Homo sapiens: one gene and its partners. The protein of the gene in region 3 purifies or fractionates together with the protein of the main gene of each other region. This does not show direct contact. Each region holds a gene or a part of one and is shown on either strand. Other genes may lie near its edges. The genes, in order: PPP2R5E, CERT1, MARK2 and FUCA1.

What was found.
Region 1: the proteins of MARK2 (region 3) and PPP2R5E purify together in Homo sapiens (affinity purification with mass spectrometry; 2 studies listed by BioGRID and IntAct, with this or other methods). This does not show direct contact.
Region 2: the proteins of MARK2 (region 3) and CERT1 purify together in Homo sapiens (affinity purification with mass spectrometry; 3 studies listed by BioGRID and IntAct, with this or other methods). This does not show direct contact.
Region 4: the proteins of MARK2 (region 3) and FUCA1 purify together in Homo sapiens (affinity purification with mass spectrometry; 4 studies listed by BioGRID and IntAct, with this or other methods). This does not show direct contact.

The regions. Positions count from the first base shown.
Region 1 is NC_000014.9:63,540,375-63,547,612, forward strand, and holds the start of PPP2R5E (serine/threonine-protein phosphatase 2A 56 kDa regulatory subunit epsilon isoform), read right to left. Parts: upstream 3,004-7,238; 5' UTR 2,405-3,003; intron 1-2,404. UniProt on the Homo sapiens protein: The B regulatory subunit might modulate substrate selectivity and catalytic activity, and might also direct the localization of the catalytic enzyme to a particular subcellular compartment.
Region 2 is NC_000005.10:75,377,266-75,382,650, forward strand, and holds the end of CERT1 (ceramide transfer protein), read right to left. Parts: intron 4,813-5,385; coding exon 4,684-4,812; intron 3,937-4,683; coding exon 3,807-3,936; intron 2,209-3,806; coding exon 2,081-2,208; 3' UTR 510-2,080; downstream 1-509. UniProt on the Homo sapiens protein: Shelters ceramides and diacylglycerol lipids inside its START domain and mediates the intracellular trafficking of ceramides and diacylglycerol lipids in a non-vesicular manner.
Region 3 is NC_000011.10:63,891,088-63,898,117, forward strand, and holds part of MARK2 (serine/threonine-protein kinase MARK2), read left to right. Parts: intron 1-4,071; coding exon 4,072-4,251; intron 4,252-4,492; coding exon 4,493-4,546; intron 4,547-7,030. UniProt on the Homo sapiens protein: Serine/threonine-protein kinase. Involved in cell polarity and microtubule dynamics regulation. Phosphorylates CRTC2/TORC2, DCX, HDAC7, KIF13B, MAP2, MAP4 and RAB11FIP2. Phosphorylates the microtubule-associated protein MAPT/TAU.
Region 4 is NC_000001.11:23,851,266-23,858,295, forward strand, and holds part of FUCA1 (tissue alpha-L-fucosidase precursor), read right to left. Parts: intron 3,296-7,030; coding exon 3,095-3,295; intron 1-3,094. UniProt on the Homo sapiens protein: Alpha-L-fucosidase is responsible for hydrolyzing the alpha-1,6-linked fucose joined to the reducing-end N-acetylglucosamine of the carbohydrate moieties of glycoproteins.

The DNA of each region.
Region 1 (7,238 bases), on a different chromosome or scaffold from region 3:
GAGCCAAGATGGCACCACTGCACTCCAGCCTGGGCAACAGAGCAAGAGTCCATCTCAAAAAAAAAAAAAAAAAAAGCCAGGCACAGTGGCACACACCCGTAATCCCAAGGCGGGCAGATAACTTCAGGTTGGGAGTTCGAGACCAGCCTGACCAACATGGAGAAACCCCATCTCTAATAAAAAAAAAAAAATACAAAAATTAGCCAGGCATGGTGGCGCATGCCTGTAATCCCAGCTACTCGGGAGGCTGAGGCAGGAGAATCACTTGAACCCGGGAGGCGGAGTTGTGGTGAGCCAAGATCATGCCATTGCACTCCAGCCTGGGCAGCAAGAGGAAAACTCCTTCTCAAAAAAAAAAAAAAGAAACAAACAAAGAAAAGAAAAGTCATATGTTAACAGGAAAACATGAAAATTTAGTGAAAATAATTTAAGTATCACGGAAACAATATGAGAACTCTAATGTATTGTGCCACTCCATTATAAGCATTAAAGATACTCATCTAGGCTTAAAGAAATCTATGCTGCCTGCCCATTTTCTAACTGCAAAGCTCTTCACATCTTCAAGTAATTTTTGGAGCTATTCTGTAACTGGAAAACTTCCATTGATACATTTTCCCAAGATACTTAATATTATGAATGGGTTCTGGAGTTGAAAAACCCTTAGTGTACTTCAAGAATCTATACCAATGTATCACAGCAAGGTGAAATTTACTACTACTGAAACTATCTAGGCATAACTTTTAATGGGATGTGCTATGTTAGCTATGATAAACTATACCACACTGCAAATGAGGACAGGCTAGATTACTTTAAACAAAACACATAAAAGGCATAATTAAAATATTTCAAATAAGTCTTCTTTTTGAATGAAGCCACCTTACGTTATTAACGCTTAATAAAAACTATGAGAAAATCAAGCACCAAAGTTGAACTGAAAACATAAATTCACAGCCTACTGAAACAACCAAGTTGAGTTCCCTTGAGGTTTAGACCTTGAAGTTCATCATCAAATACCAATTTTCATTCCATCAAACTTACGGAACTGAATAGCACTTTTGAATTGTTTAACCCTCTCGAGTTATTAAAATGAAGGCTATTTCCTGAAAGTAACAAGCGTTAAGCTTAATTTCATTCACCAAATTAAACAGATGCCATCATTTCCATGGCACTGAGGCTTCATGCAAGACTAATGGCAGACTCGGATAGAAAGAATGCATATGGGGGAAATGCTGAAATGCAATTACTCACCTGTCATTCCAATAGACAAGACAAGTGGTTTTTAACTTCTAAATAAAACAGTAAGGGAATTTCTTCCTGAACACGTGAGAATAAAAAGTTACCTGGATTACGTGGATTTTGACAATGTAAAAATAACAAAAACATTTTAAAACACATGCACACATATGATGTTGACGTTTGGAATTTGGAAGTCTTCTTTGGTTTTCTTTAAAAAAAAAAAAGTTTTTAAAAATCTACCTAATTTAGCCTTAATATAATGTGATGGATTCAAAATAGAATCACAAACTATGAATGACTATAGATGTTAAGATCACTTTAAAATATCAAAATGACTGCATCAGCCAAAAGCTCCACATCTTATTTGTACGTTGTAAATTTAGGGGCCGATTTTCCATTCGGGTATGTGAATTATTTAGACTTCACTCTAACTCTAACACTACAACATTTCAGTAAATCCTCTTCCTCCATCACTCTTTTCGTCTCTTCTTTATTCCTTATCTCTCATCTCTACAGACGATATATAGGTAGCTTTTAAAAAAATCATTTACCCCTTATGCCCGAGGCCCAGAATAAACGTCAAGGATCGCAACCCTGAAGCACTGCAAAACTGAACGTAAGGTAACAGCGGGTCCGTGCAAAGCCCAGGGAAACAGGTTTCGCCCTGGGCCAGGGCTCCCGAAGCTTTATCATCCTCTAATCAGCAGGCATGGGGCATTTCCATGGCTCAGGATAATCCAAAGGGGGTAAGGGGAAGTAGGGAAAGACAGGGAAGGGGTTTGTCTGTGGGGATGCTTACATACTCCCTTTGCTCCTAACCCACACCCCAAGCCCTGGAGACGATAAGCTGCTAGAGAATCCTCCTCACACCAAACCCCTCTTTATTCCCCGCCCCCGCCAGTGGATAAAGGGGGGCAAGAAAACGCCTCCAATCCCAGAAGGTGGAGAAAAAGGGGGGAGGGGGCAGAGTGAATGAGAGGTATCATCAGAAGCATTTGTAGGTAAATCAGACAAGTGGGACGGGCGCTCCCGCTCCCGCACCCCACCCCACCGCACCCCTCGCCTGCCCGGCCAGGCCTTCCCAAGGCCGGTGCCCCATAGGTTCCCCAGGAGGACCGGGAGGAAGAAGGGAAGCGGGCGAGCCGCGGTGCTGGAGGGACTAAGTTACCTTGAAGCTTCTGGGGAAGAATCCAAAGATGATCTGTGGCTTGGAGGGGCGGGAGACGGGCGAGGTGGCCGCAGCGGGGGCGGGCGGCGGGACCGGGACGTGCAGGGGGAGGTCCGGGCAGCTGCGGGGAGCCTGGGGCGACGGCTGTCCGGTACGGGGTCCCTCCGGTTCCGCGGCGGCGGAGCCTCTAGGCCTCACGGCCGGACCCGAACCTCAGCGTTCCGGTGGCGGCGGCGGCCTCACGATCCTCCCCCGCGGGCCCGTCCCATCAAATCGGCACCGACCCCGTTGCGGCTCCGCCGGTGGCTCCTCGCTCACATTCCTGGCGGGCGGCGCCTCAGCTCGTTGCCCCGGACCCGGCGGCGGCGGCGACGACGTGGGGAGGGGGGGAAGGGAGGGAGGAAGACTGGATCTGCAGCGGCAGCAAGAGAAGGGGACAGAATAAGGAGGAGGAGCCGCAGGAGCTGGAGCCGCCGCTGCCAGAGCCACCTTTCGCTACCCGCGGTGGGTCCCAGTCAATGCCCCTTTCTCTCTCCTATTGTCAATATCACCGGGCGGCTGAGTCCATGGCACACGCGCAACCGAACCTTCTGGCCAGCAGCGCCCGCCTCCGGCGCCCGCCCACTGGAGACTTCAAACGGGAAGCGAGGCCTCATTGGCCAGTATCCGCCTTCACTCCCCTGACAGCATGTTCGGCTGAGACCTGATCAGGGATTGGCGGCAGGAGGGCGGAGAAACGGGAGGGTGGGAAGAGAGAAGGTCGAGGATTGGGCCGAAGCTTGAGGAACCCGGATGCAGCCGCGATCTCGGGCGGTGCAGCCGCCGCTTCCGCCCGGCAGTGGGGCAAGCTGAAGTGAGAAGCCGCTGGGCCTGAGAGGAGCTCTTTAATTCCGGGAGGTGTGCGACTAGCGGATCAGCGGGCTGGCTTTCCGTGCTGTGCGGAGCCTTTGGGCGGCGGTCGTCTTGGACCGGAGGATTCCAAGGGCTCGGGTCGTCTAAGGGTCGGGGAGCCCCGGAGACTTGATCCCGCCCTGCAGCTAGTGTGGCCCCTCAGGGTTTGGGGAGTCCCACTCTGGACGGGACCCTGTGATGCGTAGGCAGGAATAAGATCCCCCGCCCGTGCCGGTGTGCCACTGCTTGTGTAAATGGGCCCCTTGAAACCCCCAGCAGTCGCTCTCCGCTGAACCTTCTTCGAATTTTCTCTCACCTCATCTCCTTTTCCTTAAACGTCTGTTTTGAATATCAGACCCCTGTAGCGTTGAAGCCAGCGCTCGTTTAATTAATGCAGGTGGGAACGCTGTCGCCACAGTTTGCAGTCTATTCATTCAGAATAACCCGCCAGTCAGCCGACTGCTCAGAGCTCGGAAAGACCCAGCTCCAAACTAGGAGTTTCGAGATTTTAATTGGCAAGTTGGACCCGAAAGAGTTAATGGAGAAGACTACTTAAATCTATCTAGAACAAGTGATGAGATATTTGGAGATGTGTTTGCATGCTTGGTGAATGCAGACGGCCAAATGGTACATTTCCAGATAATATTCTTGGATTAATGTATTTGAATGCACCCTACGTACATTTTTTGAGAGGAAAAAAGGAAGAAAGAAATTATTAATGCTAACTACAAACGTCAGAGTACCAGTTGTTCAAAACTTAGAAATTGGGGGGGGGGACAAAAAAATTAACATTCTTATTTTCTCAACTCAGAGATAACCACTTACAGTATTTGCATACTTCCTTTTAGTATTTTTTCTCTTTATGTTAATAATGTGTGTCGATCTGTAGCCTAGTTTTTTCCCTCAGCATTATATCATCTTTTCGATACGGTTAGGGAATAGAGCTATATATAAATAAAACTATATGTACCATATGTACAAGTGACAACGAAAAATGCATTTGCATTTCTCCTGTTTGTGTTGTTAAACACTAGAGTTTTGAAATTTTCTTTGCACACTCCCAGAAATGGCTCTTGAGTGGAAAAATAATTTTGTGCCATGAAAGATAAAAATATTCCTGCTTTGAACTGAAATGGAAAACGAAAAGATGACTCTTAGATGGAAGCAGTCTCCCCCTACTGACTCCAGATGATTGGCCACTGTATGGCTAGTGCCCACTTTTGCCGTGATAAAGTTCATCACCACTAAGTATGAACTATAGAATACCAGCAGTCTAGTTCCTACCCTCAAGAACCTTAAATTTTCCATATCTCAATATCCTGTACAGTCTTCATGAAAGTTCAGTGTCCCAGCCAAGGACCTGTTTTCTTCAATCTTTGATTGAGGGTAAATTCAGAATTAAAACCAAGGAAGATTTTGAAGCCAATTCAATTTCCCTTGGCAACAGTTGAACTGTTAAAAGCATAGTGCACGTTTGAAATTCTCACAGCTGTTGCTTAGAACATGTCATAGAGTGGGGATTTTGCTTGCAAATTATGGATCTCTATAAAGACAATTCATTTCAAAGTCATTTCACTTTCTATAAAATGGCTGAGCAACTGAAATGAGCAGGTTTTTTAAAATGGAAACATCCTTGCCTATGTGAGAAATTGTTCTCTGGACCAGTAATTTCTCCCATGTATCCCAGGGATTTCGGTACTCCAAGAATAGTGCAAGACAATCTATTTCGGATGCAGTAAAAGAAAGTATTAGGAAATATATTTACATTTAATTTTAATCTAAAAGGCATTACGGTCAACTACTATTTTATATAGAGTGAATGGCTCTGCCCTCAGTCCATGGAATGGTGCCTTGGCCTAGAACAGCATAGGAGATGTCCTCAGGGAAAAGTGGGAGTTACCCATTCCTAGGGGTTGGCAGTGGTGGGCCCACCCAATCAGCCCCTGACAACATATGACTTATTGCGGTTTCTTATTGCAGTTTCTGGATTCAACTAAGTGGACTTACTGATTATATTATCTAAGTTTAATTAAACTAACCCTCATAAAACAGACAAATGACTCTATGAGTCCTTTGCAAATAAACCACGGGAGAACAAGAAGAAAATGTTAGAACTGACTCTTCAGTATCAAATCTTTTTTTTCTTTTTTTTTTTTTTTTTTTGGTATTTTTAGTAGAGACGGGGTTTCACCATGTTGGCCAGGCTGTTCTCAAACTCCTGACCTTGTGATCCACCCGCCTCGGTCTCCCAAAGTGCTGGGATTACAGGCATGAGCCACCACACCCAGCCCAGTATCAAATCTTTGACAGCCACTTTTCAAAAGTAAAATACCAATCTAATAAATTCAATCAAATTTTGACTAGAAAAAAAATCAAGGCTACTTGAAATGTAAATTTACATCCACTGTTGTTGTTGTTGTTGTTGTTGTTGTTGTTGTTGTTGTTGTTGTTGTTGTTTGAGATGGAGTCTCGCTTTGTCGCCCAGGCTGGAGTACAGTGGCGCAAACGACTCACTGCAACCTTCACCTCCCGGGTTCAAGCAATCCTTCTGCCTCAGCCTCCCAAGTAGCTGGGATTACAGGCATGTACACCTGGCTAATTTTTGTATTTTAAGTAGAGACGGGGTTTCACCATGTTGGCCAGGCTGGTCTCGAACTCCTGACCTCAAATGATCCACCCCACTCGACCCCCCAAAGTGCTGGGATTACAGGCGTGAGCCACTGCACCCAGCCTACATCCACTGTTATTAAGAATTGAACTTCATTCTAAGTGTATATGTTGATTGAGTTAAGCTAATGATGGTAGCGTATGTCTATACTTTATGGACAAATACACATATATTTGGAAGAATTTTTTTGGCTGGATGTCACAGCTAATGCCTGTAATCCTAGCACTTTGGGAGGCTGAGGAGGGTGGATCACTTTAGCCCAGGTGTTTGAAACCAGACTGGGCAACATCGTGAAACCCCTTATCTACGAAAAAAATTTCAAAATCAGCCAGGCCTGGTGGCACGCTCCTGTTGTCCCAGCTACTGGGAGGCTGAGGTGGGAAGATCACCTGAGCCCAGGTGGTCAATGCTGCAGTGAGCTATGATCATGCCACTGCATTCCAGCCTGGGAGAGAAAGTGAAAACCTGTCTCAAAAAAAAGAAGTTTGGAAGCCAGGCACAATGTCACAGGCCTGCAGTCCCAACTACTCCACAGGCTGAGGTCGGAGCATCACTTGAGCCCAGGAGTTGGATTCTGTAGTGTGACATGATGTAGCCTGTGAATAAAAACATTCTAGGCCGGGCACAGTGGCTCACGCCTGTAATCCCAGCACTTTTGAGAGGCCGAGGCAGGTGGATCACAAGGTCAGGAGTTCGAGACCAGCCTGGCCAATATGGTGAAACCCCGTCTCTATTAAAATACAAAAATTAGCTGGGTTTGGTAGCAGCTGTCTATAATCCTAGCTACTCAGGAGGCTGAGGCAGGAGAATTGCTTGAACCCAGGAGGCGGAGGTTGCAGTGAGCCAAGATCCCAACACTGCACTCCAGCCTGGGTGACACAGCAAGACTCCATCTCAAAAAACAAAAAAAAATGAAAAGAAAAACATTATAGCCATCTGAGAGGCCATTATCAAGTGACAAAATGTAGTCTATTGCTCTCACATGAAAGCATTCACTTCCCAGATATCAAAGCTGAGCTTATCATGAATCTACTAGTGAGCTAGCCACGTGATAAGACCAAGACATTGACTATCAAATGATGGCTGGCTGGGGAACTAAAGGAGAACTAAAATAATAAGTAGAAGCATCGTCAGAACAATTGTCAACCAGTAGAGGAGGAAAAGACCTATGCTGATTAGATATCATGATCAGAGGTAGACTAGTTTGGTGTGTGTGGAGTGGCGGGGTACATGAAGCTGGTCGTGGACTGAGAGGAAAGAACAGTGAGGGTGAGA
Region 2 (5,385 bases), on a different chromosome or scaffold from region 3:
GGACACAGGGACTCCAATTCATTATTGCTGTTGAGATGGTCAATTACTATAACCTCTATGAAAAGTAGTATCTAAATTATGCACAAACCCCTAGCAGGGCCAGTAGTACCACATCTATTAATTTTCCCACATATAAACTTGCAAGTACAAAATGACATATGGATACAATTATGACACTGCTCTGGCAGAAATTGGAAACTGTAATATTCGCCAATGCAGAACTGATTAAATAAATTATGTACATCTATACAATGGGATACTGTATAACCATCAAAATGAGGAAGCTCCTTACAAATATGTGAGACCTTCAAGATAAAATAAATGCAAATATAAGATGTTGAACAGTGTTTATAGTATGCTGCTGCTTCTTTAACAACAAAAAAAGTGTATCTGTGTAGAAAATACACTTGTATTTGTTCATTCAAGCATTAAAAACTTTCTAGAAGAAACTAGTAATAGCATATGTTAATACTATATGGTGAATGCAAGACAGGGTAAATTTTACTGTATAACTTTTTCATACTTTTGACTTTATTTATTTATTTTTTGACAGACATTACCTGTCCAGGCTGGAGTGCAGTCGTGTAATCACAGCTCACTGCAGCCTCAAACTCCCAGACAAAGCGATCTTCCTGCTTCAGCCTCCCAAGTACCTAGGACTATACATGTATACCACCACGCCTAATTGTTTTTTGTCAAGATGGAATCTTGCTATGTTATCCAGGCTAGACTTGAACTCCTGGCCTCAAGCCATTCTCCCACCTCAGTCTCCCAAAAAGTGTTGGGATTACAGGTGTGACCCACTGCACCTGGCCACTTTTGGCTTTTAATCATGTTAACGTATCACTTACTTTAAAAAGTTAAAGATTTTGGGCTGAGTGCAGTGGCTCACGCCTGTAAACCCAGCATTTTGGGAGGCCCAGGAGAGCAGGTCACCTGAGGTAAGGAGTTCGAGACCAGCCTGGCCAACATGGTGAAACCCTGCCTCTACTAAAAATACAAAAATAGGCTGGGCGTGGTGATGGACGCCTGTAATCCCAGCTACTCGGGAGGCTGAGGCAGGAGAATCGCTTGAACCTGGGAGGCAGAGGTTGCAGTGAGCCAAGATTGCACCACTGCACTCCAGCCTGGGCAGCAAGAGAGAAACTTTGTCTCAACAACACCAAAATAAAGTTAAAGATTCTACCTCTTTGCATAAAGGTGTTCAGTGCTGTACTGGTTGACAGTAAAAATATGGAACCAACTCAGACATTAACATGGGACTAGTTAATAAATTCTGCAACATGCATGTAACAGATGTTAAAAGAATGAGATGTTTTACACATCTCATGTCTTATAAAGAAAGATAGTCAAGATACATTGTTAAGTGAAAAAAAGGTTATAAAACAAGAATTTTGTATAATAGTAAGTATAAACATTTTAACATTCAAAAATATGTCAGTACATACACAGAAAAATCTGGAGGAATATACAACAAAAATAACAGTTTCTGGGAAAGGAAAGAATACAGGAAGTTTGCACTTCTACAATTCTACAGTTCTATAATATCAAAATTTCTTTACATAAGCATTAGAAGAAAAAGGAAACAATAAAAGAATTAAGTTTTAAAGGCTATAAACTACAATTTTCAAGGCCAGGCACGGTGGCTCATGTCTGTAATCCCAGCACTTTGGGAGGCTGAGGCAGGAGGATTGTCTGAGGCCAGGAGTTCAAGACCAGCTTGGGTAACATAGCAAGACCCCTATCTCTACAAAAAATAAAAAATTAGCTGAGCATGGTGGCACATGCCTGTGGGGACTCCCAGCTACTGGGAAGGCTGAGATGAGAGGATTGTTTGAGGCCAGAGGTTGAGGTTGCAGTGAGCCGTGATGGTGTCATTGCACTTCAGCTTAGGAAACAGAGCAAGACCCTGTTTAAAACAACAACAACGACAACAACAAAAACCAACGAAACAATACTCTATAGGGGAACATCAAAAAACATAGTAAATACTTTCAACAACTAAATTTTAGTATTGACAGTCATATTAGTCAAATAAAGTTAAAAAAAGATAAAACATATCTTCTAGTACCTGTTAATACTAGAACAAAATAGGCTTTCCTGCAGTTTTTTCTTGGACGTAAGAAGTAAAACGTTTTAGAAATTTAGGATACTCTCGCTTTGCCACTGCCCTTAACACTGAGGCTGGTGCCCATCCTCCAGGGTTCACTGCAAGATAAAGGAAAATTAAAATGTATTAAGATACAATTCTCCAAACATATGTGAAGCACTTAATTTGTTCCCTTGTTTTTAAAATATTCCTCACATTGGACCAATTAGCATCTTTTTTTTTTCTTTTTGAGACGGAGTCTTGCTCTGTTGCCAGGGTGCAGTGCAGTGGCGCGATCTTGGCTCACTGCAACTTCCGCCTCCGGGGTTCAAGTGATTCTCCTGCCTCAGCCTCCGGAGTAGCTGGGATTACAGGTGCACGCCACCATGCCCAGCTAATTTTGTATTTTTAGTAGAGATGGGTTTTCACCATGTTGGCTAGGATGGTCTCGAACTCTTGACCTCATGATCCGCCCGCCTCAGCCTCCCAAGGTGCTGGGATTACAGGCTGAGTCACTGTACCCAGCTGGACCAATTATGATCTTTTAAGTCCCAACCCTTCATTCCTTAACACTATCCATCAGACATAATCAGACAGCAAATAAGAAAGCATCTATAACCTTTCTACAATGTTCTTAGTTCCCGAAATTACCTGCAAAAATTAGTATAGCACCACTTAAGGTTATTTAGGGCAGATTATTCACAAATCTGTACTATAATGAAATAGTAACTTACTCAGGTACAACTGTTTCTTTGAACATACTAGCAGTTATGGCCCTGTATAAAGAAGGTATGACTTTTGATGAGAGAGGTTGCAATGATTACTCCAGGTGCAAAGCAGGTGAAGTAAGGACCCAAAGCAAGCAATGAAAAGACCTATCCAAAGTGAAACAAATATATGTAACTAGCAACTAATAAGGACTAGGGAAACGCTGACTCAGAAAACAAAAAGCCTGACAATGAATGTCAAAGAGAAATAAATATGTAACTAGCAACTAATAAGGACTAGGGGAACATTGATTCAGAAAGCTAAAAAGGCTGACAATGAGTAAAAGAACTCTTAATTTCCTTCCCCACTGTTGCTTATATTCCTAATAATAAATCTGTTCTATGAGGCAAATATCTAAGAAAATGGTGCTTAATATGAAGGCTAGGTCGAGCGCAGTGGCTCACGCCTGTAATCCCAGCACTTTGGGAGGCCGAGGTGGGTGGATCACGAGGTCAGGAGTTCAAGACCAGCCTGGCCAAGATGGTGAAACCCCGTCTCTACTAAAAATACAAAAAACTAGCCAGGCGTGGTTGTGGGCACCTGTAATCCCAGCTACAGAGGCAGAGAATCGCTTGAACCCAGGAGGCGGAGGCTGCAGTGAGCTGAGACTGCACCACTGCACTCCAGCCTGGGCAACAGAACGAGACTCCATCTCAAAAAAAAAAAAAAAAAAAAAAGAAGGGTATATACAGTGACCTAGGGATAAAGTTTTAAAATTTTCCTATCCAGCTCTAGCTTCAGAAATACTCATATAGTAGTAGTTCCAGGGTGAAATTCAGACATCTGTACTTTCAAAGATTCTCTAGTAATTCTGATATACCTTTCTCCAAATTAAAAATTAGTAATCTAATGGATAAGAACTAAAAAGGCATTTGTCCAAATTGTTGTCATATAGGTCATGATCAAGAACAGCCACATTATCAAAGAGCAAAAACAATAAAATACATACCATTAGCTACATATGTAATCTTGCATAGAATGTTGTCCCTGCTAATTTCCTGGTTTCCCTCTGGTGGGCTTACCAAGGTTTGACAAATCATAGCAACATTTATTTTGGCACGGACACATCGGTTGTTTAGCTGCCAAAACAAAAAACAAAGCATCAGTAGATACCCAGTATTTTGTAAACTCTGCTGGTCTAATATTATATTAGGTTAACCAAAATCGTAACTCTTAAAAGTATCTCCAGTGAAATCTTATAAGCACCAAGCTGATATGACACCAGGATTCCTCCCCACCCACTTTTTCTGGGGACAAGGTCTTGCTCTGTTGCCCACTCTGGAGTGCAGTGGTGCCATCATAGTTCACTGCAGCTTCAAACTCCTGGGCTCAAAGCAATCCTCCCGCCTCAACCTCCAGAGTAGCTGGGACCACAGGTGCACATCACCAGGCCTGGCTAATTAAAAAAAAAAAAAAAATTTTTTTTAATAGAGATGGGGTCTAACCATGTTGCCCAGGATCCCTTCCTCTTAAGTAGTAAATGGAGCTAAATTGTGGTAAACCACAGAGGTTTGGCTGGCAGTTGATAACGGCTTAAGAGATAACTGTGGGAAGTAGCCTACTGCCCAGTGTATGTACTGCCCTTTTGGCTGTTTCACGAAACATTAGAAGGAAAGGTAAACGGCCCTGGTGGAATGTTCATAGGCATGACTGTTGCCCTCAGACAACACATGGGCTATACTGTTCCTAGCAGTCAATCCAACATAAAATCTAAGAACCATTATCAAATCAAGTATAGTGTATGGGCTGTGTTTATCATTTTTGTCCCGCATTGTGTATTTAGCTTTATATTGTTTAATTATACACATTTATATACATGTACTTACAGGAGCACTGTCATGATCCACAGAAAAATTACAAACTATCCAAGTTTCAGGGTCATTTTCAGTCAAGGCTGGTATCTTTCGAATGACAGAAAGATATAATACGTCTCGCTGAGAAGCAGGCCACACCCTCTGTGGAGAAGTAAAAATCTTTTGAAAAACAGATCTAACATGGAACTAACAAGAGAAACGTAATGCCAATAAATGTCTTAATTGAAGGTAAAATCTCTCAAATTTTAAATGGAAAGCATCTGAGGATATCTACCAAATGATTAATTATGAACAGAGTTAATAGCTTTGCAGAACAATATAATAAAAGGAATAATGTTCTATTTTTTTAATTGCAGTAAAATATATACACGTATAATTTGTCATTTTAACTAACTTTTAGGGTACAATTCAGGGACATTAATTACATTCACAGTGTTATGTAACCATATTGCTATCTCTGAAATTTATCATCATCCCAAACAGAAACTCTGTACCCAGTAAGCAACAACTTTCCATTCCTCTCTCCTCATACTCCATGATTATGTTCTACTTAGATTCAAAGATTTAATGAAAAAAGACTTATTTGAATCAAATCACATTAGAAAGAATTCTAAGTCACTTAGATTAAATATTTCAATATTAAGGTATGCAAGGGGAAACATATACTATGGGAATGACATGGAGCCTAGGTCTTCAATAAATGGGACTACCTAC
Region 3 (7,030 bases):
TTTCCTTTTTGTGAATGGGGGTCTCACTGTATTGCCTTTTTAAATATATTCTTTTTTTTTTTTCCTTTTTGTGAACAGCAGGTCTTGAACTCTTGGGCTCAAGCTATCCTCCTGCCTCTGCCTCCCTAAGTGCTGCCTGTAAAGGCATGAGCCACTGTGCCTGGCTTGATGATGTTGATGATAATAATAAAGTTAATATGTGCTGAGTAGGTGACAGATTTAGGATTTGAAACCTGGCAGCTTATCTCCGACATCTACAGTCTTAACCAGAAAGGAAGAGAATGAATGGTACAATCTTGCTTGTGGTTGTTAAGCTCCTTGAGGCCCACTTGTGCAGCAGGGCCAGGCAGGGAATGCTGACCTGCTGTGCCACACAGACCAGCCCCTCGGTTCACCAAGAGGGATGGGCAGAGCAGAGCTCAGGATGGGCATGGGATGCCCAGATTTGGTCTCAGTTGGCAAAAGGCCCAAGTCTGCAGGTAGATGCTAAATCCCTGGTCTGGATTTTGAGAACTTAGAGACCGTCACACTTCCTGCTGCCTTGGGCTTATATCCTCGGAGAAACAGGGAGTGACAACAAACTTAGAAGGTGAACTAGAGGTTGCCAAGGAAACTTTCCCACCCATCTTCCTCTCGTAGGAGTTGGGGCAGAAGGAAGGTTTTTTCCTGTTCATTGCCCGTTAGGCAGATGGGTAGGGTTGGAGGCAGTCTAGCAGCACTGAAAGGGAGGATGGGGCTGAGAAAAAGGTAGCCTGAGGAGACCAGGCTTTCAGTACCCTGCTGGACAGGGCTAGGGTACCCTTCAGGAGGCTGGCCCAATCAGGTGCCAGCAGGGCCTAGAAATGCCCTTCTCTCCAAGGGGTGTGAACCCTAGAGTTCCTTTGGAAGGGAAAAAAGCAGGTATTTAAAAATCCACTTGTCTTGCAGACACTGTTTGAGGACCAACCAGGCTTAGGTGAGCTACAGGGTGCGTGGAGAACAGAGCACCAGAGAGCTCTGTGGGCTGGAATGAGCAGACAATAAGAGCTGGGGGGCTTCATGGAGATGCAAAGGTTGATGAGGAAGAGAGAAGGAAGTTAAAAGGGCCTCTTCTGGGATGTGAGGAGCCTCCCCCTTCAAACATCTACCAAATGCATGGGATCTTCCTCCTCCAAGGTCCAACCCCATGTGTTTCTGGGATCTGGTCAAACAGCTCACCAAAAGACAGCCTGCAGCTACCATGCAAAGGCCCTACGTGGGCACAGTGAAGAAGGGGAAATGTCAGAATCAGGATACTGTACTTAACTTGCTGCTGTCGTTTCTGCCTGAAAAGCATCTGGTTGAGCTAGCAAGCTTCTTGTCTAGGAATGCTGGACAGTTCCTTGGGTAGTAGCAAGTCATTCTTTTTTTCTCTGTGGTTTTTGAGTGCTTCACGTACAGCCAGCAGGGGCCATGAAAGGAAGAACTTTCACTCACACTCCTCTGGTCACCCTGCTGCCCTCCAGACTGTTTCCTTGAAGTTTCCAAGGCAGCTCTGGATGGTTCTGGGATGAGGCTCTGGCCTCATATGCTTTGTTGCAGTATGCTGGAGCGATCGCTCCAGATGTTCTTTGTGAGATGTAAACCAGGGCGCTAATCAGGAGTTAGACCAGACTCTGCATTTTTTTTTTTTTTTTTTGAGACAGGGTCTCGCTCTATCACCCAGGCTGGAGTACAATGGCATGATCATGGCTCACTGCAGCCTCGAACTCCTCCTGGGTTCAAGCGATCCTCCCGCCTCATCCTCCAGAGCAGCTGGGACTATAGGTGCATGCCACCACACCCAGTTGATTTCTTAATTTTTTTTTTTTTTTTTTTTTGAGACGGAGTTTCACTCTTGTTGCCCAGGCTGGAGTGCAGTGGTGCGATCTCAGCTCACTGTAACCTCCTCCTCCTGGGTTCAAGCAATTCTCCTGCCTCAGCCTCCCTAGTAGCTGGGATTACAGGCACCTGTAATCCACCATGCCCAGCTAATTTTTTGTATTTTTAGTAGAGACAAGGTTTTACTATGTTGGCCAGGCTGGTCTCGAACTCCTGACCTCAAGCAATCCACCTGCCTCAACCTCCCAAGATTTCTTAATTTCTTAATTTTTTGTAGAGACAGAGTCTCCCTATGTTGCCCAGGCTCGTCTCAAGCTCCTGGCCTCAAGTGATCCTCCTGCCTCAGCCTCCTAAAGTGCTGGGATTTAGGCATGAGCTACCTTGCCTGGCCTAGACTCTGAACAGTTTTAGTGAGATACCATAAGTTTATCCAAGTTTCTTCTGTGTTGTAGCATATATTCTTTTTTACTGCCAACCAATATTCCCCGGTAAGGATATGCTACGTTTGTCTATCCGTTCATCCAGCTGATGGGCATTTGAATTGTTTCCACTTTTTGACTATTATGGATTATGGTGCTGTGAACCTTGGTTACAGGTTTTTTGTGGATTTCTGTTTTCATTTCTCTTTTGTATATACTGAGGAGCGGAATTGCTGGCTCATATAGTCTGTGTTTAGCACTTTGAGGAATGTACACGTCTTCACATAGATGTATGTTTTTTGTCTAGACCATACCCTTTTTGTACAGGTTGAACATCCGTAATCCAAAAGCCAAAATGCTCCAAAATCTAAACTTTTTGAGTGCCAGCATGATGCCACAAGTGGAAAATTCTACACGTAACCCCATATGACAGGTTATAAGCAAAATTCAATCACTTTATTTCATGCACAAAATTATTTTAAAATGTCATGAAATTACCTTCAGGCCATGTATATAATGTACACATGAAAAATAAATGTTTAGACTTGGGTCCCATCCCTGAGATATCTGATTATGTATATGCAAATATTCCAAAATCCAAAACAATTTAAAATCTGCCACGTTTCTGGTCCTAAGCATTTTGGATAAAGGATATTCAACCCGTATTATGTTTATATGCCTCTTCAGTGCTGGTAGTTGTAGCTTCTGCTTCCTCATCCCCTCATTTGAGCCGGGTGGCAGAGCAGGGCAGACTGCTGCCTTGCTCAGACCTAATCGTTCAGTTCTTTCATTGTACAAGTATTCATTGAGCAGCAAACATAAGCCAGTCTCTCTAAGTGCTGGGATGTATCAGTGAATAAAGAATATATGCCTGCTTTCATGTGCTTCCATTTTTACTGGGGGAGATGGCAAATAAATGTAAAGTGATAAATAACAAAGGTTCAGTGGGGCATTCGTAGTTCAGCGGCAGAAATTTCGTCTCCTACGCGGGAGACTCGGGTTCGACTTCGGCCATGCAGTCCTTCCATGCAGGAAGGGCTACTACGTTTCTACCCAACAAAGTTATTATGGCTGGGCGCAGTGGCTCACGCCTGTAATTCCAGCACTTTGGGAGGCCAAGGCGGGCGGATCACCTGAGATCAGGAGTTTGAGACCAGCCTGACCAACATGGAGAAACCCTATCTCTATTGAAAATACAAAATTAGCCAGGCGTGGTGGCGCATGACTGTAATCCCAGCTACTCGGGAGGCTGAGGTGGGAGAATTGCTTGAACCCGGGAGGTGGAGGTTGCGGTGAGCTGAGATCGCACCATTGCACTCCAGCCTGGGCAACAAGAGTAAAGCTCTGTCTCAAAAAAATAAATAAATAAAAAATAAAGGTTCATGTAAGTTTTGGGTGGCGATGAGGGCGTTGAAGCAGTTATGACCATGTAGCTACCATGACTTTGAGATGCAGTCTTCTCGCAGTGTGCACAGGCAGCATGGAGGGAGGCAGGGTACCGGCTCTCCCTCCTGAACCAGACGAGCTGTTGTGTTGCCAATGGAGGTTCAGGGAGCCAGTGATGGGACAGCTCTGCTCCTGAGCTTTGCCACCCACAGGACCTGGGCACTGGACCTTATGATGTGCTTCTCTGGAGTGAAGACTGGCTGTCACCTCAGCCCCCTCTCCTTTCTTCTGCTGCCATATCATTCTTCACATGCCTACCAGCCCCCTGGAATCTGCCCCTGCACCCTCATCCCTTATATATTTTGCAGAGAGCGTTTAGAGGACTGGAAGTGTGGCATGTAATGGTATCTCTGTTTCCACCCCGCAGCCCACCTTGGGACACCTTGACTCCAAGCCCAGCAGTAAGTCCAACATGATTCGGGGCCGCAACTCAGCCACCTCTGCTGATGAGCAGCCCCACATTGGAAACTACCGGCTCCTCAAGACCATTGGCAAGGGTAATTTTGCCAAGGTGAAGTTGGCCCGACACATCCTGACTGGGAAAGAGGTGAGCACTGGGACTGGGGACATGGCAGCACCTCCCAGCCCTGTTGACACTCCAGCAGGTGGTGATGGGACTACTACTGCAGCCAACCTCTTGTTTATCCGGCAGAAATGAGATCTGAGATATAGGGGTGCAAAAAGCTGTGGGATGAAAAGGAGTAAGAAATATAAAGGAGGAAGTAGATTGGAATCCTGGGTTTCGCTGGTCAGAGAAGTGATTTGGGGCCTTTTTGTCTCATCCTCAGGTAGCTGTGAAGATCATTGACAAGACTCAACTGAACTCCTCCAGCCTCCAGAAAGTAAGCACATGGCACCTCCTGTCCCTTTTTTTTTTTTTTTTTTTTTTTTTTTTGAGTCAGAGCCTCACTCTTGTCGCCCAGGCTGGAGTGCAATGGTGTGATCTCGGCTCACTGCAACCTCCGCCTTTTGGTTTCAAGCGATTCTCCCGCCTCAGCCTCCCGAGTAGCTGGGATTATAGGCACCCGCCACCACACCTGGCTAAGTTTTGTATTTTTAGTAGAGATGGGGTTTCACCATGGTAGCCAGGCTGGTCTCGAACTCCTGACCTCAAGTGATCCGCTCGCCTCGGCCTCCCAAAGTGCTAGGATTATAGGCGTGAACCACTGCCCCCAGCCCACCTGTCCCTTTCTAAATCTCTCTTCTGGGGTCAATGATCTACTGACCCCATTTAGACCTTCTCTTGAATTCCTAGTTTAAATTTTCTGGCCATTTCGCTCACCGTCCCCCAACCATTCCCTCCCATGGCTCTGCTACCTTCGGGGCTTTGGTTGGATCATCTGTGGTGACTCCTCCTGAGTGGGCTTCCTGGCCATAGGCACTGGCTCTTGTGAAGTCTTTCTGTTCATTCCCAGCCACTTGGCCTACCTGTCTGACCTACTTCCTGCATCTTGTTATCTTCTGGCTTGTGGCCAGCCCTATGCAAAAACACATGTTTGTAGCCACTACTAGAAACACGTGCAGCTACTTCAAGATCTGGAATGATACAGGGGAGTGGCTTTAGAAATACAAGAATAAGAGGAAGCAGGGAACCTGCCGGTGGGTTCTGTGCCAGCTACCTTTTAGAGAATGAGCTCCAGCTCAAATTTTCTGAACAAAACCTAGTTCTGTTCATCTTGTGGCAAATCAGATATTTTCTCCATAAGCATATTGTGGCAGTTGAGTTAGGAGAAGGCATGATTCGTGCTAACAGAGTCAGATAGTGATACTGGGAACCTTAGGAGTAAGGGCTGAGGATTGTTGTTGAGGGCGATGCTCATGGAATTAGAGTGGATGAGTTGTTCTCCGGACATGCAAATAGCCAGAACCAAGGTGTTTCCTATTTATTGTTACCCCTGGGATCCCTTCAAGGGTTCTTCAGTTCAGTAGAAACATTGTTGTCATCATCAGGGTGTCTCTGCTTGAAGCTTTCCAGGAGGAAGGGAAAAAGGGCTGCTTATGACATCCTGGCTCCAGCCCCACAGAAGAAGTCAGCGTGGGGTAGGCCATTTGGCCTTGGGAGCAGTCTAGCCTGCCATCGTAATAATCGCCAGTCCACCAAGCCATCTTATTCCTGACCTTGTTTTTCTCCCTAATTCTTCTTGGTTTTCTCCCTAATTCTTCCTGACTCTCTGGAAGGCACCAACACCAGACAAATAGAGCCATTTTCAAAACCTTTTGAGACTCTTTGTTACTAAAGCCAGTCTGATTCTGGCCAAAAATGTGATCTCAGCAATGATCCCTGAAAAATGAACATTGAAGAAGCTAGCCCCCTCAGGGGTCTAGACAAGCCCAGAAAACCCCAAGTTCTCCCAGAAGAATGTCACTTCCATGCCAGGTGAGCAGCCTCAGGGGAAGAAGCCCTGGCAGCTGCCTCTGGCCCTATTTCAGAGCTGCTCCCCATTACTGCCCCAGAGGGTGGTATCCAGGCTTTTTGCCTCTCCATCCAAAATATCTGTTGGACCAGGGAAAAAAGTAAGAAAAACCTAGGCCCTAATAAAGGGTAAGGTCAGCATTGGGTTCCTGAGGATTGGAAAGCCTTTTTCTTCTTTTCCTTTCTAGCTTAGGAAAGCTCTGGGGCATCATTAAAGGGGAAACAAATGTATTCACTTTATTCCATAAACCATATCTTGAATTAGGGCTTCCCCTACCCCCAACAAAAACAACAACAAAAACTAGTTCTGTTCTTTGTGCAAGTGATGAGGCCTGAAATTACAAAAAGCCCCACCTCCAGTTCTCTGGCCCCCGCAGAGGGGAAGGAGTTCATTTCTGTCATCTTTCTTTATGGAAATACATGGTTTGGAGCCCCTGGTTTTGTTTCACAAAGAGAGCGTGAGTGTGTGGAGGTGGATTTGATTAAAATTGGCATCAGCTATATATAGGAGTGGCTTCTTCTGTCACCACCCTAGAGGCCCAGGAAGGAAAGGCCTATCCCCTAGAACAGAGCCCTCTGACTACTGTAAATCAGAAAATGATGGGGTCCCCCTCTGGTGCTCTACCACCCCTTTACACAGACCAAGCTGGGGTGTGTACTGTCACTGAACCAAGGCAGCAGCTCGGATTCTGAATATTCACGCACACGGGCTCACACTCCCTCCAGTAGAGGCACCCAGCCAAAACCTGCCTGCTGTTTTGGGGCTGGATTTGGTAGACGCAGCAGAGGGCATGGCTGGCTCATCCTGATGCCATCCCGGGTAGCACGTCCCCACAGCCAGCCCTCCTCCAGCTTCCCCAACTTCCCAGCCACAGGGAAGGCCGTGCATGAGCTAGACAACCACCCTATTTTC
Region 4 (7,030 bases), on a different chromosome or scaffold from region 3:
AGGCAGGAGAATTGCTTGAACCCGGGAGACGGCGGTTGCAGCAGACCGAGATCGCACCACTGCACTCTAGCCTGGGTGACAGAGTGAAGTTCGTTCATAAATAAATAAATAAATATACACATACATACATACATACATACATACATACATACATACATACATACAAATAATCCTGGGAAGGACCTCTGCACAACTTTCTTGTGTAACTCTAATTATTTCCTTAGGACAGGTTTCTGTTAGTCTATTCAATGTCCTTAAAAGGGTTCTATTGACCTGCACTTCTATCCAGAGTACTTCCATCACTCTTACATAAAAAAGCTGGTTTTGCAGCCATAAAAGAGAATGTGTCCTTTGCAGGGACATGGATGAAGCTGGACATCACTCTTACATAAAAAAGCTGGTTTTGCAGCCATAAAAAAGAATGAGTTCATGTCCTTTGCAGGGACATGGATGAAGCTGGAAACCATCATTCTTAGCAAACTAACACAGGAACAGAAAACCAAACACCACATGTTCTCACTCATAAGTGGGAGTTGAACAATGAGAACACATGGGACACAGGAAGAGGAACATCACACACCAGGGCTTGTTGGAATGTGGGGGTGAGGGGAGGGAGAGCATTAGGACAAATACCTAATGCATGTGGGGCTTAAAACCTAGATATCGGGTTGATAGTTTGCAACAAACCATCATGGCACATGTATACCTATGAAACAAACCTGCACACTCTGCACTTGTATCCCAGAATTTAAAGTAAAATTTAAAAAAAGAGGAAAAAAATAATTAAAATCAATCATATAGTATGTTAGAAGGTAATAATAATAATAATAATAATAAAAAGTGGTTTGAGATCCATAGTTAAAAAATAGTGAACTCAGGCCAGCTGCCATGGCTCATGCCTGTAATCCAGTGCTTTGGGAGGCTGAGGCTAGATCTCTTGAGGCCAGGAGTTTGAGACCAGCCTGGGCAACATAGCAAGACCCTGTCTCTACAAAAAATTTAAAAATTAGCTGGTTGTAGAGGTGCACACCTGTAGTTCTAGCTACTCAGGAGGCTGAGGTGGGAGGACCACTTGAGCCCCAGGAGTTTGAGGTTACAGTGAGGTATGATCGTGCCACTGCGCTATTGCCTGCATGACAGAGCAAGACCCCATTTCATTAAAAAAAACAAAAAACTCCCCTCTCCCTCTCCCTCTCCCCCCTCTCCCTCTCCCCACGGTCTCCCTCTCCCTCTCTTTCCACGGTCTCCCACTGATGCCGAGCCGAAGCTGGACTGTACTGCTGCCACCTCGGGTCACTGCAGCCTCCCTGCCTGATTCTCCTGCCTCAGCCTGCCGAGTGCCTGCGATTGCAGGTGCGCGCCACCACGCCTGACTGGTTTTCGTATTTTTTTGGTGGAGACGGGGTTTCGCTGTGTTGGCCGGGCTGGTCTCCAGCTCCTAACTGCGAGTGATCCGCCAGCCTCGGCCTCCAGAGGTGCCGGGATTGCAGATGGAGTCTGGTTCACTCAGTGCTCAATGGTGCCCAGGCTGGAGTGCAGTGGCGTGATCTCCGCTCGCTACAACCTCCACCTCCCAGCCGCCTGCCTTGGCCTCCCAAAGTGCCGAGATTGCAGCCTCTGCCCGGCCGCCACCCCGTCTGGGAAGTGAGGAGCGTCTCTGCCTGGCCGCCCATCGTCTGGGACGTGAGGAGCCCCTCTGCCTGGCTACCCAGTCTGGAAAATGAGGAGCGTCTCTGCCCGGCCGCCATCCCATCTAGGAAGTGAGGAGCACCTCTTCCCGGCCGCCATCCCATCTAGGAAGTGAGGAGCGTCTCTGCCCGGCCGCCCATCGTCTGAGATGTGGGGAGCGCCTCTGCCCCGCCGCCCCGTCTGGGATGTGAGGAGCGCCTCTGCCCGGCCGCGACCCCGTCTGGGAGGTGAGGAGCGTCTCTGCCCAGCCGCCCCATCTGAGAAGTGAGGAAACCCTCCGCCTGGCAACCGCCCCATATGAGAAGTGAGGAGCCTCTCCGCCCGGCAGCCACCCCGTCTGGTAAGTGAGGAGCGTCTCTGCCCGGCAGCCACCCCATCCGGGAGGGAGGTGGGGGTCAGCCCCCGCCCGGCCAGCCGCCCCGTCCGGGAGGGAGGTGGGGGGGTCAGCCCCCCGCCTGGCCAGCCGCCCCGTCCGGGAGGGAGGTGGGGGGGTCAGCCCCCCGCCCAGCCAGCCGCCCGGTCCGGGAGGTGAGGGGCGCCTCTGCCCGGCCGCCCCTACTGGGAAGTGAGGAGCCCCTCTGCCCAGCCACCACCCCGTCTGGGAGGTGTACCGAACAGCTCATTGAGAACGGGCCATGATGACAATGGCGGTTTTGTGGAATAGAAAGGGGGGAAAGGCGGGGAAAGGATTGAGAAATCGGATGGTTGCCGTGTCTGTGTAGAAAGAGGTAGACACGGGAGACTTTTCATTTTGTTCTGTACTAAGAAAAATTCTTCTGCCTTGTGATCCTGTTGATCGGTGACCCTACCCACAACCCTGTGCTCTCTGAAACGTGTGCTGTGTCCACTCAGGGTTAAATGGATTAAGGGCGGTGCAAGATGTGCTTTGTTAAACAGATGCTTGAAGGCAGCATGCTCGTTAAGAGTCATCACCACTCCCTAATCTCAAGTACCCAGGGACACAAACACTGCGGAAGGCCGCAGGGTCCTCTGCATAGGAAAACCAGAGACCTTTGTTCACTTGTTTATCTGCTGACCCTCCCTCCACTATTGTCCTATGACCCTGCCAAATCCCCCTCTGTGAGAAACACCCAAGAATGATCAATAAAGAATAAATAAATAAATAAATAAATAAATAAAAAACTGGACACCCTACTACCCACACCCACTTTAAGATATAGATTACAACCAACACCGTTAAAGCCCTTTTGCATGCCCTTCTCCATCCCAGCCCCCTCCTAAATTTTGTTTATAATGATCTCGCTTTTCTTCATAATTTTACCTCCAAAATATGCATCTGTAAACAATATGCTGTTTTTGCAAGCTTTTGAACATTATATAAAATAAATCATACTGCATGTTAAAAAAAAAAAAACAAAAACAAAAAACTCAAAGGTGCTCTTACCGAAATGATTTCAGATTCTTCTGTAACATCAGACAATGCCATGTCACGACGATAGCCCCAGGAAAACTTGTCAATGCTGGTGCACATCTCCCACTTGTGATCTGGCAAGCTCTGTGGCTTGAATTTATCTTCACAGTTATAGTATCCTCCATGGTGACAGGAACAGTTCTGACCCCATCGGTCATTTACTACCACCTCATCCTAAGGAGGGAAAGAATATTTGGTCATGAGGAGTAAAACCACTTGACTTCTTTATGTAATACACTTTGGTAAGGCTCTATTTGGAAGCAAGAAACTTAGTCTAGAGCAGTGGCTGTCAACTGGGGGCAATTTTGCTCTGGAGGGGACATTTGGTAAAGTCTAGAGACATTTTTGATTGTCACAACGGGGGTGGTATGCCATCTAGTGGGTAGAGACCAGGGATGTTACTAAACGTCCTACAATGCACAGGACAGCCCCCACAGCAAAGAAATATTCAGCCCTAAATGTCAACAGTACTGAGGTAGAGAAACCCTGCTGCAGAGATACATGTCAGGGCTGGGAGAGCTTGCTTTAAAGATCATCTGGTAAATCACTTTTTCTATAAGAGGAGAAATGAACAGGAGAGGACCTGCCTGGGGCCATGCCCCTAGGCAGTTTCAAAAGCTGGAACTACAAATCAGGTATCTGAACCCATGGCAGGCTGTTTTCCAACTATATAATCCCAGCCTTACTTACGTAAAAAAAAAGTCTTAAGACAATCCCACTCAAAAAAAAAAAAAATAGCAAATTCTTTTTCTTACTTCAAGGTTTAGCTGAAGAATGATAAATCATACATGGAATATCTTAATGTAAATGTTAAATGCAGCATATTTTATAACAGAGTGGCCAATACAAGATAAAAACTGAAACCATTTGGGAGGCCAAGGCAGGCAGATCATGAGGTCAGGAGATAGAGACCAACCTGGCTAACACGGTGAAATCCCGTCTCTACCAAAAATACAAAAAATTAGCTGGGCATGGTGGCACATGCCTGTAGTCCCAGCTATTTGGGAGGCTGAGGCAGGAGAATCGCTTGAACCTGGGAGGCGGAGGTAGCAGTGAGCCGAGATCGTGCCACTGCACTCCAGCCTAGGCAACAGCAGAGCGAGACTCCGTCTCAAAAACAAAAACAAAAACAAAACTGAAACCATGTTCAATTCATCACGGCAAAAAGAGATTTATTAAAAGTTTAAAATTCCCATTTCTTGCCTGTTTTAGAGTCATTCACATTGGTATGAAGTTTCTCCTATGGAAGCTAGTTAAGTGCCAAAGAGAAATAGAAGAATAGTCATTATTTGTAACTAGTTCAATCCAATGTCTGGTACTTGATTATCAATGTCTGGGCATCATGGGTCACAGAATTGAAAAGGACAACTCAAGATCAATTCAAGAACAGGTATGTAAAAGCCATTTCAGAGAAAAATGGGGTATTAACAATCCTAATTCTTCATTCAACACCTACCCATCCGCTTATTCAATAAGTATTTACTCAACAACTACCATGGGGCTCACACTGTGGGCAGATACTGGGTCTCCAAGGTGAATAAAACAGAGGTCTTGCCCTCAACCATCCAGCAGAGACTAGCAGAGGAGACAGATATGTGGACAATTACAATATGACATCATATCAGAGTTTATGCCTGGTTACAAGATTATCAAGGGCTTTGAGGTTCATAGCTGGCTCCACCACCTAGTAGTCAAGGGGTCTTAGGCAGGTAACTTTACCTTTTAAGTTAGTTACTTATCTATAAAAACAAACAAACAAAACCAACCAAACAAACAAAATCCAAAGGCAAATATCACCCACCTCACAGGGGTTTGAGAGGGAGGGATAAAAGTGACAGTGTGCCCAGACTCTGGCTCAGAGTGAATAAAGGTGTCTCCTTGCCACACCTCCTCTTTCTCAGAGTCCTCAGGTGATGTGAACGCTCCCTGTACACTCAGCCTGTCAAGGACAGACACAACCATGCACTCCTTCATCCCACAGAAGCTAATGCAGTACCCTCCACTTTGGCATTCGAACCAGTGTCTATGGATTGTGGAGACCTCAGGACATACTTCTACTATCATACTGGTCACCCTACAATGTACTTTGTTTGTATGTCTGTCTTTCTCTTCAGACTGTAGTTCCCTAAGAGCAGAAACCATTCATTCAGCATTTCCAAGGCTTAGCATGCGGCATGCTACGGCACCGGCTCTCAATAAATCCTGGTAGAAATGAAGGAGAATCTACAGTCCCCATATGTCTGCGAAGCTACTGTGAAGATGGGTTGAGGCACACCCACACAGAAGGTCCTGGTTGCTTAGGAATTATTGTTTAAGAGAGGCCGGCCGGGAGCGGTGGCTCACGCCTGTAATCCCAGCACTTTGGGAGGCTGAGGCGGGTGGATCACAAGGTCAAGAGTTTCAAGACCAGTCTGGCCAACATGGTGAAACCCCGTCTCTACTAAAAATACAAAAAATTAGCCAGGTGTGATGGTGTGCGCCTGTACTCCCAGCTACTCGGGAGGCTGAGGCAGGAGAATTGTGTGAACCCAGGAGGCGGAGGTTGCAGTGAGCCGAGATCGTGCCATTGTACTCCAGCCTGGGCGACAGTGCGAGACTCCCTCTCAAAAAAAAAAGAAAAGAAAAAAAAAAGCCAAAAAAGTTCAGGCTGTCTAGCTAGTCATGCTTTTTAAATGACACTGGGGTTGATATTTTCTTCCCTTTCCCAATCCTGCATCTTTGGCTAGTCATTTTTCCTTCTGTGATACTCCTTAAGCACAAACACTAGACTGTAACCTCACGTAGCAAGCGACCTAGCTCGAGGGGTATACACCCTGAACATATATACATAGACGCCATTTCAGAGACAAATGGGGTATTAACAATCTGAATTCTTGGTTCAACACCCACCTACTTTTCCTATTTATTCAGCAACTACCATGAGGCTCACACTGTGGCAGACACTGAGTTTCCAAGGTGAATAAAACAGAGTTCTTGCCCTCAACGATCCAGCAGAGACTAGCAGAGACAGATATGCAGACAATTACGATATGACATCACATCAGAGTTCATTACCTAGGGATGAACTGCACATCTGGGAGGTCACAAACATTCATCAAGTTCCAGAAAACCACTCTTTTTTTTTTTTGTGAGACAGAGTCTCGCTCTGTTGCGCAGGCTGGAGTACAGTGGCACGATCTCTGCTCACTGCAACCTCCGCCTCCCGGGTTTAAGCAATTCTCTGCCTCAGCCTCTCGAGTAGCTGGGATTAGAGGTGCCCACCACCACGCCCGACTAATTTTTGTATTTTCTTTTTTTTTGAGACAGAGTCTCGCTCTGTTGCCCAGGCTGGAGTGCAGTGGCGCCATCTTGGCTCACTGCAAGCTCCGCCTCCCGGGTTCACGCCATTCTCCTGCCTCAGCCTCCCAAGTAGCTGGGACTACAGGCATGTAAAAATTAGGCCCGGCCTAATTTTTGTATTTTCAGTAGAGACGGGGTTTCACCGTGTTAGCCAGGCTGGTCCTGAACTCCTGACCTCGTGATCCACCAGCCTCGGCCTCCCAAAGTGCTGGGATTACAGGCGTGAGCCACCACGCCCGGCCTTAGAAAACCACTCTTAATCTGTCTCTGTGCATCATATAGAATCTGTTTTTTTCTTTCTTCCCATTTTCTGAGCTTAGTAATAGAGACCCAATGAGACCCTTAGACTTTTTTTTTGAGAAGGAGTCTCACTCTGTCGCCCAGGCTGGAGTGCAGTGGCGCGATCTCGGCTCACTGAAAGCTCTGCCTTCCAGGTTCACACCATTCTCCTGCCTCAGCCTCCTGAGCAGCTGGGACTACAGGCACCCACTACCACGCCTGGCTAATTTCTTTTTGTATTTTTAGTAGAGATGGGGTTTCACTGTGTTAGCCAGGATGGTCTCGATCTCC